Linked DNA regions of Homo sapiens. The protein of the gene in region 1 purifies or fractionates together with the protein of each later gene. This does not show direct contact. Each region holds a gene or a part of one and is shown in the gene's direction. Other genes may lie near its edges.

Evidence for each region. Proteins that work in one complex are often made in the same cells at the same time.
Region 2: the proteins of ALPG (region 1) and USP16 purify together in Homo sapiens (affinity purification with mass spectrometry; 2 studies listed by BioGRID and IntAct, with this or other methods). This does not show direct contact.
Region 3: the proteins of ALPG (region 1) and B3GLCT purify together in Homo sapiens (affinity purification with mass spectrometry; 2 studies listed by BioGRID and IntAct, with this or other methods). This does not show direct contact.

Annotation. Positions count from the first base shown.
Region 1 is NC_000002.12:232,402,082-232,409,848, forward strand, and holds the start of ALPG (alkaline phosphatase, germ cell type preproprotein), read left to right. Parts: upstream 1-4,762; 5' UTR 4,763-4,813; coding exon 4,814-4,880; intron 4,881-4,975; coding exon 4,976-5,092; intron 5,093-5,204; coding exon 5,205-5,320; intron 5,321-5,512; coding exon 5,513-5,687; intron 5,688-5,763; coding exon 5,764-5,936; intron 5,937-6,185; coding exon 6,186-6,320; intron 6,321-6,419; coding exon 6,420-6,492; intron 6,493-6,622; coding exon 6,623-6,757; intron 6,758-6,839; coding exon 6,840-7,031; intron 7,032-7,250; coding exon 7,251-7,367; intron 7,368-7,492; coding exon 7,493-7,767.
Region 2 is NC_000021.9:29,048,646-29,054,992, forward strand, and holds the end of USP16 (ubiquitin carboxyl-terminal hydrolase 16), read left to right. Parts: intron 1-115; coding exon 116-210; intron 211-1,446; coding exon 1,447-1,533; intron 1,534-5,156; coding exon 5,157-5,313; intron 5,314-5,420; coding exon 5,421-5,542; 3' UTR 5,543-5,843; downstream 5,844-6,347. UniProt on the Homo sapiens protein: Specifically deubiquitinates 'Lys-120' of histone H2A (H2AK119Ub), a specific tag for epigenetic transcriptional repression, thereby acting as a coactivator.
Region 3 is NC_000013.11:31,202,953-31,209,978, forward strand, and holds part of B3GLCT (beta-1,3-glucosyltransferase precursor), read left to right. Parts: intron 1-3,334; exon of another isoform or gene 3,335-3,374; coding exon of another isoform or gene 3,375-3,387; intron 3,388-7,026. UniProt on the Homo sapiens protein: O-glucosyltransferase that transfers glucose toward fucose with a beta-1,3 linkage. Specifically glucosylates O-linked fucosylglycan on TSP type-1 domains of proteins, thereby contributing to elongation of O-fucosylglycan.

The DNA of each region.
Region 1 (7,767 bases):
CTGAGGCGGGAGACTCACTTGGACCTGGGAGGTGGAGATTGCAGTGAGCCAAGATTGTGCCACTGCACTCCAGCCTTGGCAACAGAGTGAGACTCCATCTAAAACAAAGTAAATAAAAATTTAAAAAATTTAAAAGAAATTAGCCGGGCGTGGTGGTGCACACCTGTAACCCCACCTACTCGGGAGGCTGAGGTGGGAAAATCGTTTGAACCTGGGAGGCAGAGTGTGCGGAAGATGGCGCCACTGCACTCCAGCCAGGGCGAGAGAGTGAGACACCGTCTCAAAAAAAAAAAAAAACACCGAACAAAATACAAAACAAAACAAAACCAAACCTCAGGATGGCTGGGAAAGCTCCTGACTGGCTTTGCCTTTGGAGTGAATCAATCAATCAATTAAGGGCGTGCCTGTTAGTGAGTCTCCTCTGACCTTTAGCCAAGAATGTTCCGAACTCAGCAAGATGAAGCAGGAGGTAGAGGGAACTAAGGGGGCAACAAGCAGGAGACAGGAAGGGCCCATGAGGGTGACATCTTCCCTGAGAGGTCCAGGACAACCAGCAGGAAGTCAGGCGGGTGCAGGCAGGAGGACCCAGGAAAGCTCGGCCTGAGGGAGGCCCTAGGTGTGGTGGGGAGTGGGGTAGGGCAGGCAGAGGCTGGGCAGCAGGTGAGGTCCCCTGGATTCTGGGGGCCAAGCCTGGGGCTTGAGGTAAACAGGCCTGAGTGGAGAAGGGGCTGCTGTGGTTGGGCTGGGGTGGGTGGAGCTGGAGGAGCCTTTTCTTCTTGGACCAAATTTTGAATTGTGCTACATAACATGGTACATCAGAGTTACCTCCTTCACCATTTTCAAGTGTTCAGTACACACACATTGTTGTGCAGCTGATTTCCAGAACGTTCTCATCCTGCAACCCTGAAGTTCTGTCCCTATTAAACTCCAACTCTAACCCTAACCCGAACCCTACCCTAACCCTAATCCATTGCCCCCTCCCCCAGTCCCAGGTAACCTCCATTCCACTTCTGTCTCTATGAATTTGACTCCTCTAGGGACCTCAGAGAAGTGTGTTCATATGCATTTGCCCTTTTTGTTATTGTTTTTAAGAATCTTATTTTACAGGAGACGGTATTTGTCCTTTTGTGACTTTCATATTTCACTAGGTGTAATGTCCTAACCGTCCATTCACGTTGTAACAGAGTCTTCTCCAGGGCCTCCTTCAAGGCTGCATGATATTTCGTTGGGTGGATGACCCCATTTGGTTTCTTCTACCTTTTGGGTATATATATATATGCACATATATAACCCAGGCTGGCCTGGAACTCATGAGCTCAAACAATTCTCTGACTTGGACTCCCAAAGACTGGGATTACAGGTGTGAACCACCATGCCCAGCCATCCTTTTGGTTATTCTGGTTTTCAAATTTTTTCCCAATTTTATTAAGACTGTGATAAACCAGCCAGGCATGGTGGCTCATGGCTGTAATCCCAGCACTTTGGGAGGCCAAGGCGGGCAGATGCCTTGAGGTCAGGAGTTCAAGACCAGCCTGGTCAACATGATGAAACCCTGTCTCTATTAAAAATACAAAAAATTAGCTGGGTGTGGTGGCTTGCACCTGTAGTCCCAGCTACTTGGGAGGCTGAGGCAGGAGCATCACTTGAACCTGGGAGGCAGAGGTTGCAGTGAGCCGAGATCACACCACTGCACTCCAGCTTGGGTGACAGAGTGAAACACTGAAAAAATGTCTTTCGAAAATGAAAAAAAAAAAATACTGTTATAAACCCTTGGATTGAAAAAGTTTATAATGATAACTTCTACAGTGTAAAAAATAAAAAAGTAAAAAGAGTTAAAAAATAAAAATAAATAAATAAAATTATCAATGAACCCTAATCAGAATAAATATAAAGTTGAAAAACACACTAAACAAATCACTATATCATTCAGGAAAACATGCATATGTGGTAAAAAGCAATCAACAGCAAAGTCAAGATTAACCAAAATACAGGATAGTCATTACCTCTGGGGAGAAAGGTGGGAGACTCAAAGGCTTTAAATCTTTTTCTCAAAAAGATTTATCCCTACAGAGTAAATAAGGGTTTATTTTTGTTATTCATCTTTAAATGGAACAGATGGAAAACATTTTTTTGCATGACCACAACAAATGGAAAATATATTAATGAAGTTCAGTCACTCTTCTGTTTTACTCATAATAACAGAAGCCAGAAACCTGGGAGTTACCTTTGACCACTCCCTCACCAACCAAGTCCAATTAATTTTCACTTCTAATCACACCTATAATACCAGCACTTCGAGTGGCGGAGGCGGGCAGATCACTTGAGACCAGGAGTTTGAGACCAGCCTGGCCTTGATGGTGAAACCCCATCTCTACTAAAAATACAAAAATTAGCCGGGCATAGTGGCTCATGCCTGTAATCCCAGCTACTCAAGAGGCTCAGGCAGAACTGCTTGAATCCCGGAAGCGGAAGTTGCTGTGAGCCGGGATCACACCATTGCACTCCAGCCAGGGTAACAGACCAAGACTCAGTCTCAAAAAAAAAAAAAAAAAAGATCACTTTCTATTCTTCCCCACCCACAACACCAAACCCTGGCCCCAGCCACTTTGATTCTCACCAGGAACCCAAATCCCTCCCTCTTCCTTAACACCCCCGCTCTAATCCAATCTCCACACAGCAGCCAAAGCCAACACTTTAAACATGATTAACTCTGTCTGTCTTCAACTTGAATCTCCCTCACTACCCTCCTTTTCTATCAGAAGCAACAGAGAGACAAGTAAATTGCCCAAGGCCACACAGCAGGACATGGCAGAGACAGGATTCAGAATCTACTAGTTTTGACAGTCCACATGTCTCACCCACCCACTATCCCATTTTGGGTGATCCCAGAAAAGGGTCAGCCACTGCCCTAACACAGGGTAATCTCAGACAAGGACAGAGGATTTCTCCTCCAATCACCACTTCCCTTCCTTTATCAGCCTAACTCCCAGTTATCCCTAATTCTCAGCTCAAACCACACTTCCTCTATTTTTTTTTTTTTTTTTTTTGAGACAGAGTCTTGCTCTGTCGGCCAAGCTGGAGTGCAGTGGCGCGATCTTGGCTCACTGCAAGCTCCACCTCCGGGTTCACACCATTCTCCTGCCTCAGCCTCCCGAGTAGCTGGGACCACAGGTGCCTGCCACCACGCCCGGCTAATTTTTTGTATTTTTAGTAGAGACAGGGTTTCACCGTGTTAGCCAGGATGGTCTCGATCTCCTGACCTTGTGATCCACCCGCCTCGGCCTCCCAAAGTGCTGGGATTACAGGCGTGAACCACTGTGCCCGGCCTTCAAACCACATTTTCTAGGAAAGGCCTTCCTAGGCCCCTTGTCCTATTCCAGCAACTCCCCACAATTTGATGGCCAGCACTTTGTACATCTCTAAAAACATTCCTCTTCCACTAGATTGTGCCCTCCACAAGGGCAGAGGTCTGTTTTGCCCACGATTGTGGCACATGTCACACACCCTTGAGCACTCTGGTTCCTCTCCAAATCCATTTCTCCTGAATGTGGGCCCAGATTGGTGGCTCAAGTCTGGAACCCTAGCAGTGTTGAAGGATCGCCTGAGCCCAGGAGTGCAAGACCAGCACGGGTAACAGAAAGAGATCCTGACTCTACACAAATTTTTGAAAATTAGCTTCACATAATGGAAGATACACGGGAGGCTGATGTGGGAGGATCGCTTGAGCCTAGGAGGTGTGGCGTGAATGCACCACTGCACTCCAACTTGGGTGACAGAGCCAGCCCCTGTCTCAAAAAAATAAATAAATAATAATAATAAAACAGAAAGAAAAAAATGATGGCAAGGTATCTGAACTGCAGAAATACTTTTTAACTCAGCCTGAGGCTATCAAAACATCTGATCCCCATGTGAAAGGCTACAGTTCTGGGCATGCTCAGGGCCCACCGAAAACAGAGTCCGCCCAGGCACCCTCTGCCTGTGCAAGGGAACAGGTGTCACAATCAAGTGCACAAGCTGCTCTGGAAGACCCAGCCCAGGCCTGTCTGGCCGAGGGCACTGGACTCTCCCCCACTGCGTCGTCCAAACATTAGTGCGAGTGCACCCACACAAACACATACACAATCAAACACAACATGTAAGCAATGGGCAGGACTGGCCCGGCCCCACTCAGTGTTGTCACCATTGGCCCCACAGATGCCCACAGCCCTGGAGCTCTGGGCCTAGATTCCTGCCAGCCCCACCTGTCCAGGCCAAGGCCAGATGTTGGAGCAAGGGGGTGCCAGAGCGGCAAAGCCCCCCATGTGCCCCTTTCCCACCGGGCCCAGGCTCCTGGCATCAGAAAGCTGAACCCAGTATCTGGCCCGGGCTGTGTGCTTCCAGCCTCCCCTCCTCTCGACACCAGAACAGAGCCTGGCCCCCAGCTCCCAGGAAATACAGAAAAAAAAAATGGTGGATGAACGAGTGACAGGGTGTCTAGTTCCACACAAGACACAGTGAGCAGGGGTTGGGGGAGGGGCCCCTGGCGGCAGGATGCACACTGCACTATACCCAAAATCCCACCCTTCCCTGGGGGACACCTGGTCCCACCCTAAGCTGCCTTTCTCAGGACCCCAGCCCCAGCCCAGCCCAGCCACACCCTGCCACTCCCTTCAGCCAGTGTGGCTTCAGGTCAAGAGGCTGGGCGGGGTCAAGGTGGTAACAAGGGGAGGGGCCAGGACACAGTTTTCCCTGATTTAAACCCAGGCAGCCTGGAGTGCAGCTCATACTCCATACCTGGGATTTCCGCCTCGCCGCTCTCCGACTGCTTCCAGACATGCAGGGGCCCTGGGTGCTGCTCCTGCTGGGCCTGAGGCTACAGCTCTCCCTGGGCATCATCCCAGGTAATGAGGCTCCCCCAGCTGCCCCTACACACACACACACACACAGGGCACCCCCCAGCCCAGGCTGACCTGATCTTTGCTCTCCCCCTGGCCAGTTGAGGAGGAGAACCCGGACTTCTGGAACCGCCAGGCAGCCGAGGCCCTGGGTGCCGCCAAGAAGCTGCAGCCTGCACAGACAGCCGCCAAGAACCTCATCATCTTCCTGGGTGACGGTGAGTGAGCCAGGCCTTCCAGCCCCGCAGCCCTCACAGCCCCGGCGCCCGGACCCTCAGTGGTTCCAGGACAGCCCTGGGGAGCAAGCCTCACACACTTCTGCTCCTTCAGGGATGGGGGTGTCTACGGTGACAGCTGCCAGGATCCTAAAAGGGCAGAAGAAGGACAAACTGGGGCCTGAGACCTTCCTGGCCATGGACCGCTTCCCGTACGTGGCTCTGTCCAAGGTAAGTGCTGGGCTACCTTAGAGTCCTCCAAGCAGAGAAGGGGAATCCTGGCTATGGAGTGTGGTAGGAGGGAGGGACCCTAAACAGCTGGGGCTCCAATAAGGAGCTGGAGGCAGTTGGAATCCCAGAGGACAGAGATCAGGGTCTTGTTTGTCTGCCCCAGAGAAGAGCTCAGAGTGTCTCTGTCCCCAGACATACAGTGTAGACAAGCATGTGCCAGACAGTGGAGCCACAGCCACGGCCTACCTGTGCGGGGTCAAGGGCAACTTCCAGACCATTGGCTTGAGTGCAGCCGCCCGCTTTAACCAGTGCAACACGACACGCGGCAACGAGGTCATCTCCGTGATGAATCGGGCCAAGAAAGCAGGTGAGCTGGGGCCCGCTGTGGGGTCAGGGCCAGGTGACAGACCTCTATCGCATATCCTGACCTCTATCACCCTCAGGAAAGTCAGTGGGAGTGGTAACCACCACACGGGTGCAGCATGCCTCGCCAGCCGGCGCCTACGCCCACACGGTGAACCGCAACTGGTACTCGGATGCCGACGTGCCTGCCTCGGCCCGCCAGGAGGGGTGCCAGGACATCGCCACGCAGCTCATCTCCAACATGGACATTGATGTGCGACCCCCGGGCCAAGGGCTGGGGCTGGGCAGAGAGTAGCAGGGAGGGGGCACCAGCTCAGACCCAGGCAACCAAAAGCCTTATCTGGGCCAGCAGGGTCTGGAGGTGGGGTTGGGGGCGTAGAAGGCGCAGCCCAGGCTGGGCCATTCCCACAGCCTTGGGGAGGGGAGTCAGGGGCTGTGCATGAGGAGGGGACACGGGGCCAGCCAGGCCCCCAAATCCACCTGCCCCATCCTCTGTTCCCAGGTGATCCTAGGTGGAGGCCGAAAGTACATGTTTCCCATGGGGACCCCAGACCCTGAGTACCCAGATGACTACAGCCAAGGTGGGACCAGGCTGGACGGGAAGAATCTGGTGCAGGAATGGCTGGCGAAGCACCAGGTGATGGGGGCTGGTGGGTGTGCTGGGCACAGCAGGGGGAGGGCAGAGGTGTGGGGCTCGGGGCTGTGGGCTGAGGCCTGGCTCTCTCCCTCCCCGCAGGGTGCCCGGTACGTGTGGAACCGCACTGAGCTCCTGCAGGCTTCCCTGGACCCGTCTGTGACCCATCTCATGGGTAATGACCCCCTTCCTGCCCTGGCATCCCTCAGATGGCCTCAGATGGCACCTTCTGAGCCTGTGTGCACATCCGCCAGCACCCTCCCACCCCCAGCCTGCCAGTCACCACAGGACCCCTTGTCCCACAGGTCTCTTTGAGCCTGGAGACATGAAATACGAGATCCACCGAGACTCCACACTGGACCCCTCCCTGATGGAGATGACAGAGGCTGCCCTGCTCCTGCTGAGCAGGAACCCCCGCGGCTTCTTCCTCTTCGTGGAGGGTGCGTGGTGGCCCCTGGGGAGTGGGGGTTGGGGGTTGGAGCAGGGCAGGCTCAGCATCTCCCCCCTCTGGCCTTCCTGCAGGTGGTCGCATCGACCATGGTCATCATGAAAGCAGGGCTTACCGGGCACTGACTGAGACGATCATGTTCGACGACGCCATTGAGAGGGCGGGCCAGCTCACCAGCGAGGAGGACACGCTGAGCCTCGTCACTGCCGACCACTCCCACGTCTTCTCCTTCGGAGGCTACCCCCTGCGAGGGAGCTCCATCTTCGGTAGGCCTGGGGAGAGTGGCAGGTGCTGCTGCAGCAATTAAGTGGGTGAAATCTGAGCCTCAGTCTCCTCCTCTGTCAAATGGGAGTAATGCTGGCACCAGCCCTGTAGGGTCTCCTGCGGACTAAGCCCCTGACCAGGCAAAACGTGGCGGTGCCTAGCACGTGGGAGACACTCCACAGCTGTGTTCAGCTCAACCACAGGGACCCCTCTCTCTGCAGGGCTGGCCCCTGGCAAGGCCCGGGACAGGAAGGCCTACACGGTCCTCCTATACGGAAACGGTCCAGGCTATGTGCTCAAGGACGGCGCCCGGCCGGATGTTACGGAGAGCGAGAGCGGTGAGTGCCGTGGGGTGGCCCCCTGAGGGGGACCAGGGTGCCAAGGATGGGGGGCTGGCGGGAAGGGGTCACCTCTTGTCTGCCTGGAACTGAAACTTCCTACTGAAACTGAACCCTCCAACCAGGGAGCCCCGAGTATCGGCAGCAGTCAGCAGTGCCCCTGGACGGAGAGACCCACGCAGGCGAGGACGTGGCGGTGTTCGCGCGCGGCCCGCAGGCGCACCTGGTTCACGGCGTGCAGGAGCAGACCTTCATAGCGCACGTCATGGCCTTCGCCGCCTGCCTGGAGCCCTACACCGCCTGCGACCTGGCGCCCCGCGCCGGCACCACCGACGCCGCGCACCCGGGGCCGTCCGTGGTCCCCGCGTTGCTTCCTCTGCTGGCAGGGACCTTGCTGCTG
Region 2 (6,347 bases), on another chromosome or scaffold:
AGAAAAAGTTTACTGATCCTTGCTTTAGATGTTTGGAATGATTTTATAGCAAATCTGAATGCTTTAGGGGTCTAAAATGATTTTCTCCCTGTTAAAAATTTCTTCTTTTCTTTAGGTGAAAGGAAGCATGTTTACACCAATGCCAAAAAGCAGATGCTAATTTCTCTTGCTCCTCCTGTTCTTACTCTTCATTTAAAGAGATTTCAGCAGGTACTCCTTGTTACCCAAAATTTGTTTTAAATATGTAACACCTACTTTATTACCTATTTTTTTCATTACTGTCTCAACATACTACTTTGTTTCTTTGGTTTTCTGTTGTTTCTTAACTGTAATGTCAATGAAGTCAGAAAGGGAAAAACATAGGGGCTAGGCAGAGGCGCATGTGAAGATGGAGGCACAATCTCCTCAGATTTCCTAGAACTCATTTATGTCCCTCTTTTTAGTACGATTGGCATCTTACTTTTATTTCAGGTTAAAAAAAGAAAAAGACTGGTGTGTTACATATATCTCATGCTTAGGAATATTAGTGATTTTTTCTGTTTTGTGTGTGGCATCTTGTTTTTACGGACCCTTGATAAAAAGACATTGGTGCCTTGGATTGTCATCATTTTGGTGACCTCATCTTTTCTGGAAAACTTTTGCTATAGCTGTATAACTTCTAAACTGTGTTGCAAATTCCGAAAGTACTTTCAGTATCTTCAGAACGTTTTGCCTCTTGTGGTTGGTATGGGCTTGACTAATTGGGTGGGCCTTTATTAACAATTCACTAAGCTTGGTTTGAGCATGAGGCTGAGAGCGTGTGTTTCACAGAAAAGTATTATGCTATCGCTGAGTTTTAAGCACTCAGAACCTGTGGTCTAATCTGGCATTTCTGGATGGCTGAAGCAGAAACATTGAGAATTTTCTCACGAGAAAAGTTGTTTTTCTTCTTTTTGAAACAGTCTTGTTCTGTCACCCAGGCTGGTGTGCAATGACACGATCATGGCTCACTGAAGGTTTGACCTCCCAGTCTCAAGCGATCCTCCCACCTTAGCCTCTATAGTAGCTGGGACTATAGGTGGCTACCACCATGTCCAGCTAATTTTTTAATTTTTTTGTAGAGACAGAGTCTCACAGTGTTGCCCAGGCTGATCTCGAACTCCTGGGCTCAAGTGATCCTCCTGCCTCAGCTTCCCAAAGTGCTGAGATTACAGGCATGTGCCATCGTGTCCAGCTGGGAATAGCTTTCTTAATGTGTTGGTGTGTGTTTTTTGTGTGATACATGTGTACTTAGCAAAAGCAAACCAACTTGGAATCAGTTAGTGTTCAGGAAGAATTGAGTCTCCAAAGAAAATTGAACTAGGACTTAATGTTGATATTCTTTTGGACGTCGGAGGGGACTTCGGTTTACTTAACCTGTATTGCTTTTCCAAGAAAAGAAGTCAATCTGTTATGCTTCTCTTTTAGGCTGGTTTTAACCTACGCAAAGTTAACAAACACATAAAGTTTCCGGAAATCTTAGATTTGGCTCCTTTTTGCACCCTTAAATGTAAGGTAAGTCAAAGTGGTCTTTTTCAGGAAAGTCCTTTAAAGTCAAATTGTGGCTTACCTAATGCTCCAGTAGCAACTCACTTAAGTATGAAGTTGATAACACTTATTGAGTAGAGTGGGTCTTTGATCATTGTACCTTTATAATTTGAAGATTAGTGATGAATCATTTTGAAGAATGGGTTATTTCAGTTCAACGTTTGGAATCCCCTTTATTATGGCATACATTGTCTTGTGAGCGGAGGGCATAAAACTAAAGGTGAGCAGATCTATTAATGAATAATCTGTTTAATGTGGTTGAATGTTAAGGCTGGTGAACATAGGTCAGGAGTGGTATACACTTAACCCAGCATGTTGGTGGTTCAGGAATGGCTTTGTAAAGTAAACCATGCCTCAACTATATTTAAAGAAGGAGTAAAAGTATGATGAATCAAGATGAAATGAGTTTTGCAGGCAGAAGGAACAGCAGGAGTAAAAACAGCAGTGTAAAATAGGATGGTGATTGCCAGAGACTGGTAACGTATGTAGTTCTAGAGTTTATAGTACAAGGTTATAGGGAGAGTTGAGAAATGAAGCCAGAGAAGTGAGATAGGAATGAAGTTTTGGAGGGTTCTCATGGTGAGGAACTTGGACTTCATTAGGTATACAGTGGGGAGCCCTGAGGAGTTTAAAGCACTGGGGTGGCATGGTCAGATCTTCATATGACGTAGGTTACTTGTTGATGTATGAAGGCTGAATTTTAGGACGGAAAGACTAGAGGTGGGGAAGTGAGTTTGGAGGCTGTTGTATTAATTCAGCCAGTAGTTGATGAGGGCTTAAAGTTGGGCAGGAGATGGGGAGATAGAAGGAATATTTCAGGAGGTAGAATTAACCAGACTTAATGATTGATTGGCACTGTAAGGTGAGGCAGAGGCCTTTTATAAGTGGATGCTGAGGGTGGCAGAGAAAGGGTTGAGGATGATTCCTGAGGCCTGGCACGACAGATGGGAGTGCTGTAAATTGAGATAGGATATATAGGGAGAAAAGCAGGTTGAGAAAAGCAGGTAGAGAAAGGATAATGACTTCAGTTTTAGATACATTTGAGTGTCAGATACCTTTGAGAAATTAATGTGCTTAGTCTAGAAAACATTTGGATATACATATCTGAGACCTATAGCAGAGAGGTTAGGATGGGCCCAGGGCACAGATTTAGAAATCAGTACATATGTGGCAGTTTAAACTATGAGAAGATGGGATCCCTTGTGTATAGAGTCTGAAGAGAGAAAAAGGAGATGGCCAATGACAGGACCCTCCTAAGTATCTGAGTGGAAGAGGCAGGGGTAGAAAGTGAGGACACCACAAAGGATCTCAAAGAATCTCCATGTTGAAGAATTTGGGGCTGGGCGTGGTGGCTTACGCCTGTAATGCCAACACTTTGGGAGGCCGAGGCGGGTGGATCACTTGAGGTGAGGAGTTCGAGACCAGCCTGGCCAGCATGGTGAAACCCTGTCTCTACTGAAAATACAAAAATTAGCCAGGCATGGTGGTGTGCGCCTGTAATCCCAGCTACTCGGGAGGCTGAGGCAGGAGAATTGCTGGAACCTGGGAGGCAGAGCTGCAGTGAGCCGAGATTGCGTCACTGCACTCCTGCCTAGGTGACAGAGCAAGAAACTCCCTCAAAAAAAAAAAAAAGTCTGGGCCAGTTGCTGTGATGGGCATAATGGAAGAGGCCGCTAAGGACAATTTATAAGATTATGGTCACATTGAGGACTATGACAAGGTACATGATCATTTATTATACTTTTGTTTCTTGGCAGTAGTGGCCATCTGGGTTTGGGGCATGGCAGGTACATTATAGGATTCAGGGTGAGGTTTTGTGATGAATTGGATATGGAGGAGATTATTTGTAAGTGATACATGTGATTGAAGTTCCCAAACTTTAATGTGTATGTGGGAATCAGACCTACAAATTTTGATTCTGTAGGTCTAGTATGGGATCAAAAATTCTGCATGTTTAATGTAAACTCTCAGGTGATGCTGATGCTGGCTGTTCATGGACCACATTTTGAATAGCAATGGTCTAGACTGCATATGGGAATTATATTATGTCAGTTTCCATGCTGCTGATAAAGATATACTGGACAAGATATACTGGGCAAGACTGGGCAATTTACAAAAGAAAGAGGTTTACAGTTCCACATGGCTGGGGAGGCCTCACAGTCATGGCGGAAGGCAAGGAGGAGCACGTCACATCTTACATGGATGGCAGCGGGCAAAGCAAGAGCTTGTGGAGGGAAACTCCCCCTTAAGAAACCATCAGCTCTCATGAGGCTTATTCACTATCAAGAATAAGGATGGGAAAGACCTGCTCCCATGATTCAGTTGCGTCCCAACGGGTACCCTCCCATGACATGTGGGAATTGTGGGAGCTACAACTCAAGATGAGATTTGGGTAGGGACACAGCCAAACCATATCAGGAATGAAGCCAAAAGTCTTCATAGGTGAGGAGAATATGAGCATTGGAGATCCTGTTAGGTTAAAGAGTACAGAATAGGTGAGATGAGAGTTGAATAAATAGAAGACTTGTGGACTAAGACTAAAAATAAGATTTATGTCCCTTCAGCTCAGGAGTTTGAGACCAGCCCAGGCAACATGCTGAAACCCCATCTCTACAAAAAATTAATTTAGCAGGTCATGGTGGTGTGCACCTGTAGTCCCAGCTATTCCAGAGGCTGAGGCGGGAGGATCACTTGAGCCCAGGAGGCAGAGGTTGCATTGAGCTGAGATCATGCCACTGCACTCCAGCCTGGGTGACGGAGTGAGACCCTGTCTCAAAAAAAATTTTATGAAGTTGAACAATTCTGAGTGATGACAAGCCCAGACTCTAGTCCTGGGTGTGGTTGACTAAAATGGAATGGCATTTAAAGTCCTGTGAGAATCATAGATGGACGGAGAAGTACTAAGTTCTTCAGTGAATATGGAGGCACAGATTGGGAAGCTGAGTATAGGAGACAGTACTACTGAAGGGCCGTGATGCCTGTTACGGACTTTTACATGAGAACATAAATAGTTGTCTGAAAAGTGGCTCCTGGCCCAGAGAATGCCTGTTCCTGTTGCCAGCCCTATGGCATATAGAGTCCTGAAAGAATAAGCAGCGTGCACTCTCTCGTGGGGAAAGTGAACACTTGAGAGGTTGAATGTGCTTCTCACCAACTCCCTTGGGGACATTTAAAGATGTAAGGGGTAATTTTTGGCACAACCTAAAATACTGTTCTCTTCCTGTTCAGGGCTTACCTTTTTTTAAACAGGGTATTCAGAGTTGTTAATAGCTAGGGTTGTTAAGAATTATCCTCAGGCTCCTAAAGAAACTGGCAAGTTGAATTCAGTTATTTGGTATCTGAGCCAGGTAACTGCATCAAGTGGCCTGTGGCTTACAGCTTTTCTACCAGGGGAACAATGGTGAATTTATAATAAAAACAGAAGTGTCTCAGGCTGAGAAGAGGTATGGAGAAAAGAGTAGACTCATGAATGATTTCTGCACTCTCAAAGTAATGGTTAAAGACCCTTTGCATAGTGTAAACTTGTCTTGCCCATGACATCTGTGTAAATGGAACTAGAACTAACTTTTGGATTCTACTCATTTTTAAAGAATGTTGCAGAAGAAAATACAAGGGTACTCTATTCCTTATATGGAGTTGTTGAACACAGTGGTACTATGAGGTCGGGGCATTACACTGCCTATGCCAAGGCAAGAACCGCAAATAGTCATCTCTCTAATCTTGTTCTTCACGGTGATATTCCACAAGGTAAGATGTCTTGGAAAATTCAGGCACTCAGCAGATTACGGCAAAACCAAAAAGTAATCAACTTGAATCTTTCCATTTATGTTTGATTTTTCATTTTCTCATGACAGATTTTGAAATGGAATCAAAAGGGCAGTGGTTTCACATCAGCGACACACATGTGCAAGCTGTGCCTACAACTAAAGTACTAAACTCACAAGCGTACCTCCTATTTTATGAGAGAATACTGTAATAATATCAAAAGCACTTTTTCTGGAAACACATTTATGGCTTTTATAATGGCTGAAATAACGATAAAAAAAGACTAATTAAAATCATGTTCACTTAACATTAAATACATGCCAGAAGAAATCATGTTTATTTAAATATTGAAGGGAAAAATACCTAAAAATGTACAAAGGTTTTATATTGTCATAGTGGTTTTTATTCCTGCTTTGTTTCTGGAAAGGAAATCCTGAATTACTTAAGTACTTTGTGTTTAATATATCTGGGTGATGGATCACAACACATCAATAAACTGACTTACCCTAAAATCTTGTTTTATTACTGGGAAGATTTTAACTTCTATTGACTTATCCTACTAGGTAACACTTTAAAAAATATTTCATCAGACTGGCTAATGAAGCTTCATTACAAGTGTGTTAATTTTTTTTTTTTTTTTTTTTTTTTTTTTTTGAGACGGAGTCTTGCTCTGTCGCCCAGGCTGGAGTGCAGTGGTGCGATCTCAGCTTACTGCAAGCTCTGCCTCCTAGGTTCACGCCATTCTCCTGTCTCAGCCTCCCGAGCAGCTGGGACTACAGGCGCCCGCCACCACGCCCAGCTAATTATTTGTATTTTTAGTAGAGACAGGGTTTCACCGTGTTAGCCAGGATGGTCTCGATCTCCTGACCTCGTGATCCACCTGCCTTGGCCTCCCAAAGTGCTGGGATTACAGGCTTGAGCCACCGCGCTGGGCCATACAAGTGTGTTAATTTTATAAGCATCTATATTGACAGCAGAATATAAATGGGAGCAATGTTTCTTTATAAGCCTTCTGA
Region 3 (7,026 bases), on another chromosome or scaffold:
TATGCAGCCAAACCTAATCCTATTGCCAAACCTAATCCTAATTGATAGAAGAAGCTTATTCGAACCAATGATATTGATAAAATAATAGGTATTAGCTTTTATTTTTCACATGCCTGTCTGTCACTTCCCTGTGTGAGCCAACTTTGTATTTCTTAGCACCTGCCAAAATTGGGGATGGTTTTTCATTCTGAGCCAGGTCTTGCCCAGATTCCTTTCATTGCAATGAGTCAGAAATTTTAGGACACCAAGAGTCAGACCTAATTCCAGGTTGTTTTGTGTTTTTTGATTCTTAAAACCTTCTCTTTATTTCTTAAGCAGTATGCAGATATTACTGGCACAGATTTTAATCTTCTGGATGGATTCTTTGTCATCCAGGTAGTCCAGGACCTCCGAGTTGGCATGGCTCCCCAGGTCATGGACTTGACCCAGGGGAGTTTGCCAGTAGCCAACAGCTAAGCCAGTGGGAGGGAGGGAGAGCATCTGTTTCAAATAGCAGTGTGAATTCGAAGGAGGTGCTTTGACCCCTTTGGTAACTTCCTGCGGGACAAACATTGTGGGCTCGGTATTTGAGCACTTCCTTATAATTGGCTCTTTTGGAGCCAGGTTTTTTTGGTGTGTTTTACTAGACTCATTATGAAGCAAGCAAGCAAGCATAATTTTTAGGCATAAAGGTACTACTTAGAGAAAATTTGCAAATGTTCTGTTTTTCCTCTTGTAGCATTATGTGTGATCCATCTTTGGCTTTGCACAGATTACTTCTTAAGAACAATATATGGGAGTCCCCATAGGTTAATCTCATCTTTTCCATGATAAAGGAAAAGTTGTGAGTTTCAAGGGTTCATCAGACCTATTGAGGAAGTTCTTCCTTACTACCATGATTTCAAAGTTCTAGTCACTAAGCAACTCCCAAAGAAACCTGATTTAACGTAGGCGTTGACTTGAACTACTAGAAGAATGTCAATTTAAAAATAGTGTTAAAAAGAAAAACTGCCCAAAGCCTCTCATTTATTCAGAGTAATGTGGGTACCTACTGTGTGTCAGGCATCGTGATATTGCAGGAACAAGACAGATCTAGTCTGTCTCTACCCTTGGGGAGCTTGCAGCCCGAAAGGCAAGGTGATGTTAAGCAGTAATGACTACAGAATGAATCGTGTCTGTGCCAAATGCTGTGGAAGAGATGTTCAGGATGCTGTGAGAACATGCTGCAGGGAGATAGATGGCTTTTGCCTAGACTGGGGAGATGGATCTCAACAGGGAGCCATCTTGCACCCCAGGGAACGTTTGTTGCTGTCTGGATACTTTTTGGTTATCCCAGGGGCTGGTTTGGCAGAGGGTGCTACTGACATCTAGAGTCAGGGGTGCTGCTGAACATCCTACAAAGGCACAGGACAGTTCCACCCCACCATCGAACAATTAATTATCGGATCCAAAATGCCAACAGTGGCAAGCTTGAGAAACTGTGGGGTAAGGGTCAAGGAAGGCTTCCTAGAGGATGTGACGTTAGAGCTCAGACCCGAAAGGGAAGCAGAAATCAGGTAAGTGGGTGGCAGAGCTTGGTGGTGAAGGAGCCAAGTGGAGAAAGGACGGAGGACTGAAGGGCTGGCAAGATCATTAGGGGCCAGGTTGGGTAGGGCCTTGCAGATCAGGGGACATATTTTGGGGTCATCCTTAGAGCAGAGGGAAGTGTTTGAAGGGCTGTAGTGGGGCAGTATGTGATATGGCTGCCGTTTCCTGAAACTCACTCTGGCTGTCTGATGGAGCAGGAGTTGGAGGGGGCCATTGTGGATATAGGGAACTGTGAGGAGGCTGCTGGACACAGGTTGTGAGAGATGATTAATAATCTCTCAGACTCTGGGACTGATTAGGTTCAGTGTGCTGGGAGAAAGGGTGGGGGAAAGGATGAGTCATACATTTCTGTCACATCCACCATGGGTAGTAGTGCTGTTTACTAACTTGGGCACTGAAGGAGGAGGACCAGGTTTTTAAAAACAGTTTTATGTGGTTCAATGTACATAACATACAGTTTATTAAGTATAATGAATTTTAAGTGTATAGTTCTATGGCATTAAGTACTTACACAATTTTTTGAAATGTACTTTGACTTTTAATTTTAGGGGGAGGTGAAGCTGAGTAAGTTCAGTTTTGGACAAGTTGAGTTCAAAATGCATGTGAGATGGCCAGGTACCATGTTAGGTGAGCAGTTAGATATTTGGGTCTGTAGAGGACAGGTCTGGCTGGAAGGTATTTTGGGGGGTCATTATATTAGGTGGCAATTTGAGTAGGTTTTTTTTTTTTGTTTTTTTTTTTAAGAGTTGGGTGTCTGGTCGGGCATGGTGGCTCACACCTGTAATTTCAGCACTTTAGGAGGCTGAGGCAGGCAGATCATTTGAGGTCAGGAGTTCAGGACCAGCCTGGCCAACAAGGTGAAACCCCATCTCTACTAAAAATACAAAAAAATTACCCGCGCATGGTGGCGTGTGTTTGTAGTCCCAGCTACTTAGGAGGCTGAGGCAGGACAATCGCTTGAACCCAGGAGGCCGAGGTTGTAGTGAGCAAAGATTGCACCACTGCACTTCAGCCTGGGTGACAGAGTGAGACTCCGTCTAAAAGAAAAAAAAAAGTTGGCGGGTCTGGCTATATTGCCCAGGCTGGACCTGAACTCCTGGCCTCAAGTCATCTGTCTGCCTTAGCCTCCCAAGCAACTGGGACTACAGGAATGTTCCACTGCACTTGGCTGTTTTATGTTTGTTTGTTTTTAAGGAAGAGAGTCTTGCTTAACAGAATAAATTCATTTAAGCATTTACTCAAAATGTGTATATACCAAAGATTTGGTAGAAGTTGGAGAGGAAAGCAGTCTTTATCTACATATATCTGCATGTTGTAAAGCTGAGGGTTTAGACAAAACAAAAATAAAAACAAAAACAAGTATAAGTATCATCAAATAAGAGTTGAATGTATCTTAAGTATAGCAGTGCCATTTCCTCCTAGGGATATGACTTATTTTCACTCCTAAAAGAATATTTTATGTAGCTGAAAAGATGATATATTTTAGTTTATATCATTGCTTCCCGTAAGAAACTCAAGGCTCTTTACACATCACGTTGAATTTATCTTCTCCAGATCCTTGATGGGGGATATGGAGGAGCTTGTTTTTCGTTTACGAGCTAAATGAAGTAAAGGACGTTAAATGGCCTCAGCCCGTTGTGAAAATAGCCCCATTCAGTTCCCTTGAGTTCCTGTCTAGTTGCCCTTCCCAGTGTGTGTCAGACTTCAGCACACATGAGAATCATCTGTGTGTCCTAAAGAAGCCTGTATTTGTTAAAATGCAGATTCCTGCGTTCCAGCTCCAGATTTTCTGATTCAGAAGATCTGAAATGAGACTTCCAGGTAAGTTTTCTGTGAAGCCAGGTGTGAGAACCCTGCCTGGGCCACCATAGGCCCGGATATAAACTAGGACTCTTACTGGGTGATTTCTGTGAACATCTGTGGAATATAAAGATGATCAAGCCCGGGCGCAGTGGCTCACGCCTGTAATCCCAGCACTTTGGGAGGCTGAGGTGGGCGGATCACGAGGTCAGGGGTTCGAGACCAGCCTGGTCAACATAGTGAAACCCTGTCTCTACTAAAAATGCAAAAAAAAAAAAAAAAAAAGGTAGCCGGGCATGGTGGCGGGTGCTTGTAATCCCAGCTACTCGAGAGGCTGAGGCAGGAGAATCGGAGGTTGCAGTGAGCCAAGATCATGCCATTGCACTCCAGCCCGGGCGACAGTGCGAGACTCCATCTCAGAAAACAAAAAAAAACAAAAGATGATCGGTGGTTGTTTTGCCTTAAAGTAAGGAGTTGTTCTGGAGAGAGCAAAGTGTGGCATTGAGGCCTACTCCTCAGTCAGGTCTTTTGTGTACTTGGGAAAGGAACTGGAAACACCAGAACTAAAACTATGAAGTCTGTCTCAGGCTCCAGGATCATTTGGCAAATTTTTAAATGCTGCTGAGGAGACCATAGTCCGTGGAGCATGAGTATCAAAAGTTAGAGCCGTGAGTTGTTAAAGCAAAGGTTTTTGGGCAATATACAAATAAGTTTCTAAAGGCTTAGAGCGTCTCAGATTGTGTGTACCATGGATTGAGTGGTACTGAAAGGGGTACTTACTTTATCTGTATGTCTGTTTATCCATCTACCTACCCATCTGCACACTAAGGGGGTACTTTTAAAGACCTACTTCTTGTAATTAATAAGATGCCCAAAAGTTAATCATAAATTATATTTTTATAAGTTAAGCCTGACAGTTAACTGTTCCATAGTACACTTGCAATTTAAAGGAATCGCGTAAACTGCTAATTTTTTTTTTTTGTTTGAATGTTTGCTGTGTTCCTCTTTGATGTGTTCTGTAGTAGGCTGTGTGACCAGGGATTTTTCTGACCCTTCCTATGACTTAGGCTATGGAACATGCTAGTGAGGGTGGGGTTTTAAATCTCACCCCCAAGACTGTTTTGAGTTGCAATTTTCTGGTTTGCATATCCTGAGTGACGGTTTTTAAACAAGATGCAAATCAAAGTATGAAATGATCTTTTCCCTCTTGAATATATATAGTTATTTTCTATTTTTCTCTTTTTTTTTCACTATCTACTGTGCTTCCTGTAAAATATATTTACTCTCTGGCCCATAGAATATGTTGGTCTCATCAAACTTTGTTGTCAAGTGAAGAAAAGCTAATATTCCAGTGTTTCCCATGACTTCTGTAATAAAACAGGAGAGGAGTTTCAGATGGAACTAGATCATATCTGAGTCGATAGTAGGCTCAAAGCAGGAATATTGTGTCTGCATGCTTGCTGCCTCAGTGTGGTGGGAGGCTTGGCCTCCTTCCTCACTACTTCTCTCCACTGGCTGAATTGTCCTGGCATCTTTCCCAGCAGCAGATCTCTTTTCCTAAGAGTTTACTGTTTGGCACTTGAGCAAAAGGCTCAATAGGTTTTACCATAGGCCAGGTACTGTTTTGAACCTGAACATACATGAACTCACTTAATTCTTGTTCCATTTCTTCCCTCTACAGGGAGGGAAACAGAGGCTCAGAGAGGTTGCTTAACTATTAAGTGGCAGCGCTCGGATTTGAACCTAGGAGGTTTGAGTATACTTTGTCTTTGTACTTTGTACTCTGTACACAGTACAAAGTACTCTGTACTTTGACCTTATGCTGTATGACTTCTCAGGCAGGGCCCCGGCCCGGGTCTCCTCTACTGCCACATCTTTCTGTTGTACAGTGCAGCTTTAAGGAGAGAGTTCTTTGAAAGGATTCATTAAACAGCTGCCTTCTCTCCTGCTTCTCCTCCCCATCTGGCCATTCCTTTTGTCTCCTTTGCAGTTTTGTCCTTAAATGTTGCAGTTCCCCTGAGCCGTCCTTGGCCTCACGAGCCTTGGCTTCCGTTCTGGTGCGCTGTGGAGACTCTAGTGCTGCAGCCGCTATTGCACGCACACCCCTGTGCTGGGCTCACCCCTGCACCCGGCTCTCCTGCCTGTCTGCACTTGCGTATCCTCAGGACGCTGGGCACCAAGTTGCCTTCCCTCACACGTGCTACCCTCCTTTATTCTAGGAAGCCCCAGGCCCTCCCTTCCCGTCTCACCCCCCACCCGGGTGCTCTGTCTCAGAGCCTGCAGCTTCTGCTTCTTTAGTGGCCCCCCCCCCCCGCTCACTGCCACCTTCATTGAGGCCCTTAGCGCTCTTTGCTTGACTCCAGTGGCCTTCCCACTGGCATGTTTGTGTCCTTTCTTGTCCTCCCACAGCCGTCCCACACACTGCCTCCAGAAAGCTGTCTTGGGCACACATCTCAACAGGGCATTCCCTCCTTAAAACCTCAAACAGCTGTTCCTGGCTCAGGAAAAACCTGACTCCCCAATACCACCCCCTCCCATGATATGGCCCCTGGTACCTTCAGCCTCATTTCTAGCCCCAGCCACCCGTCCCCACAGGGGTTCCTGCCCGGGTCACCCCCTCCTCAGAGGGGTCCCTGCCCGGCCGGGTCACCCCCTCCCCTCAAGGGACCCTGCCTGGGTCACTCCCTCTTCTGAGGTATTTCTGCCACCAAGTGTGTTGACCCTGCCATTGGCCTGCCCTGTATAAAACCCAAGAGGGAGAGAATAAAATCCGATGCCCCTTAAAAAACGTACGGAGTGACAGGGCCTTCCATCCCATGGTTGGAGGTGCTGTCCCATGGTAGATGGAGCTGCTACCCAGCTTGTCTGCTACTGTGGGGACAGGGGACAGTGGATTTGTCCCAGTAGGGTGGAGAAAAGGCAGACTTTACCTCTGTCGCTGGGCTGCAGGGGTGTTTGTTTCTGTCCCTCTGCTACCATGGATTATCTTCAAAGTGGGTACTTGGAAACAAGTAAGTTGGCTATGCGCCATGCATCCTGGAGCTTAAGGCCCCCTGGAGGACCTGGAATTAATCCTGGAAAGCTCCACGGAGAGGCAGCTGCTGGAGGCTGGAGCCAGCTGGGTGACATGCTTTGTAAGTAGGTCACAGGAAAGAAAGTGAAGCCCCAAAGGCTTCCTCCCCCAGCGTGTTAGAAAAGAAGTGGCAGCCTGCATAGCCTGGAAGGAGCGCCTGAGCCATGTGTGCTTCCAAGACGGCTCTCTGTGAGCTTTGGCCTGGGTGGCAGAGCCACAGGTACCGGGTTTTATGCTCTCCTGGCTTTTGTGCAGGGCAGGCAACCACCTAGACACTTCCCAGACTGCCAGTCATTATCATTGTGGTCACCAGCATGGCCACAGCTATTGGCTGAGCTTTTTTATATATTCTGAGCTGATGCCAAAAGTTTAGGCATTATCTCATTGGTTCCTGCCAGCGCCCTCTGAGGTGGAGTTATTTGGCAGCTTAGTGGTTTTCTTGTTTTTACTGTTCCGTTTGGTTTCTATGATAGATGTTCCTGGGAAAGTTTGGGAAAACAAATTAAGAGAATTGGGACAAAATCAAGTTAGGAGGTAGAAGGCACAATCATCTTTCCTGCGTGGGAATGGGGGTCCCTTGCTCCCTC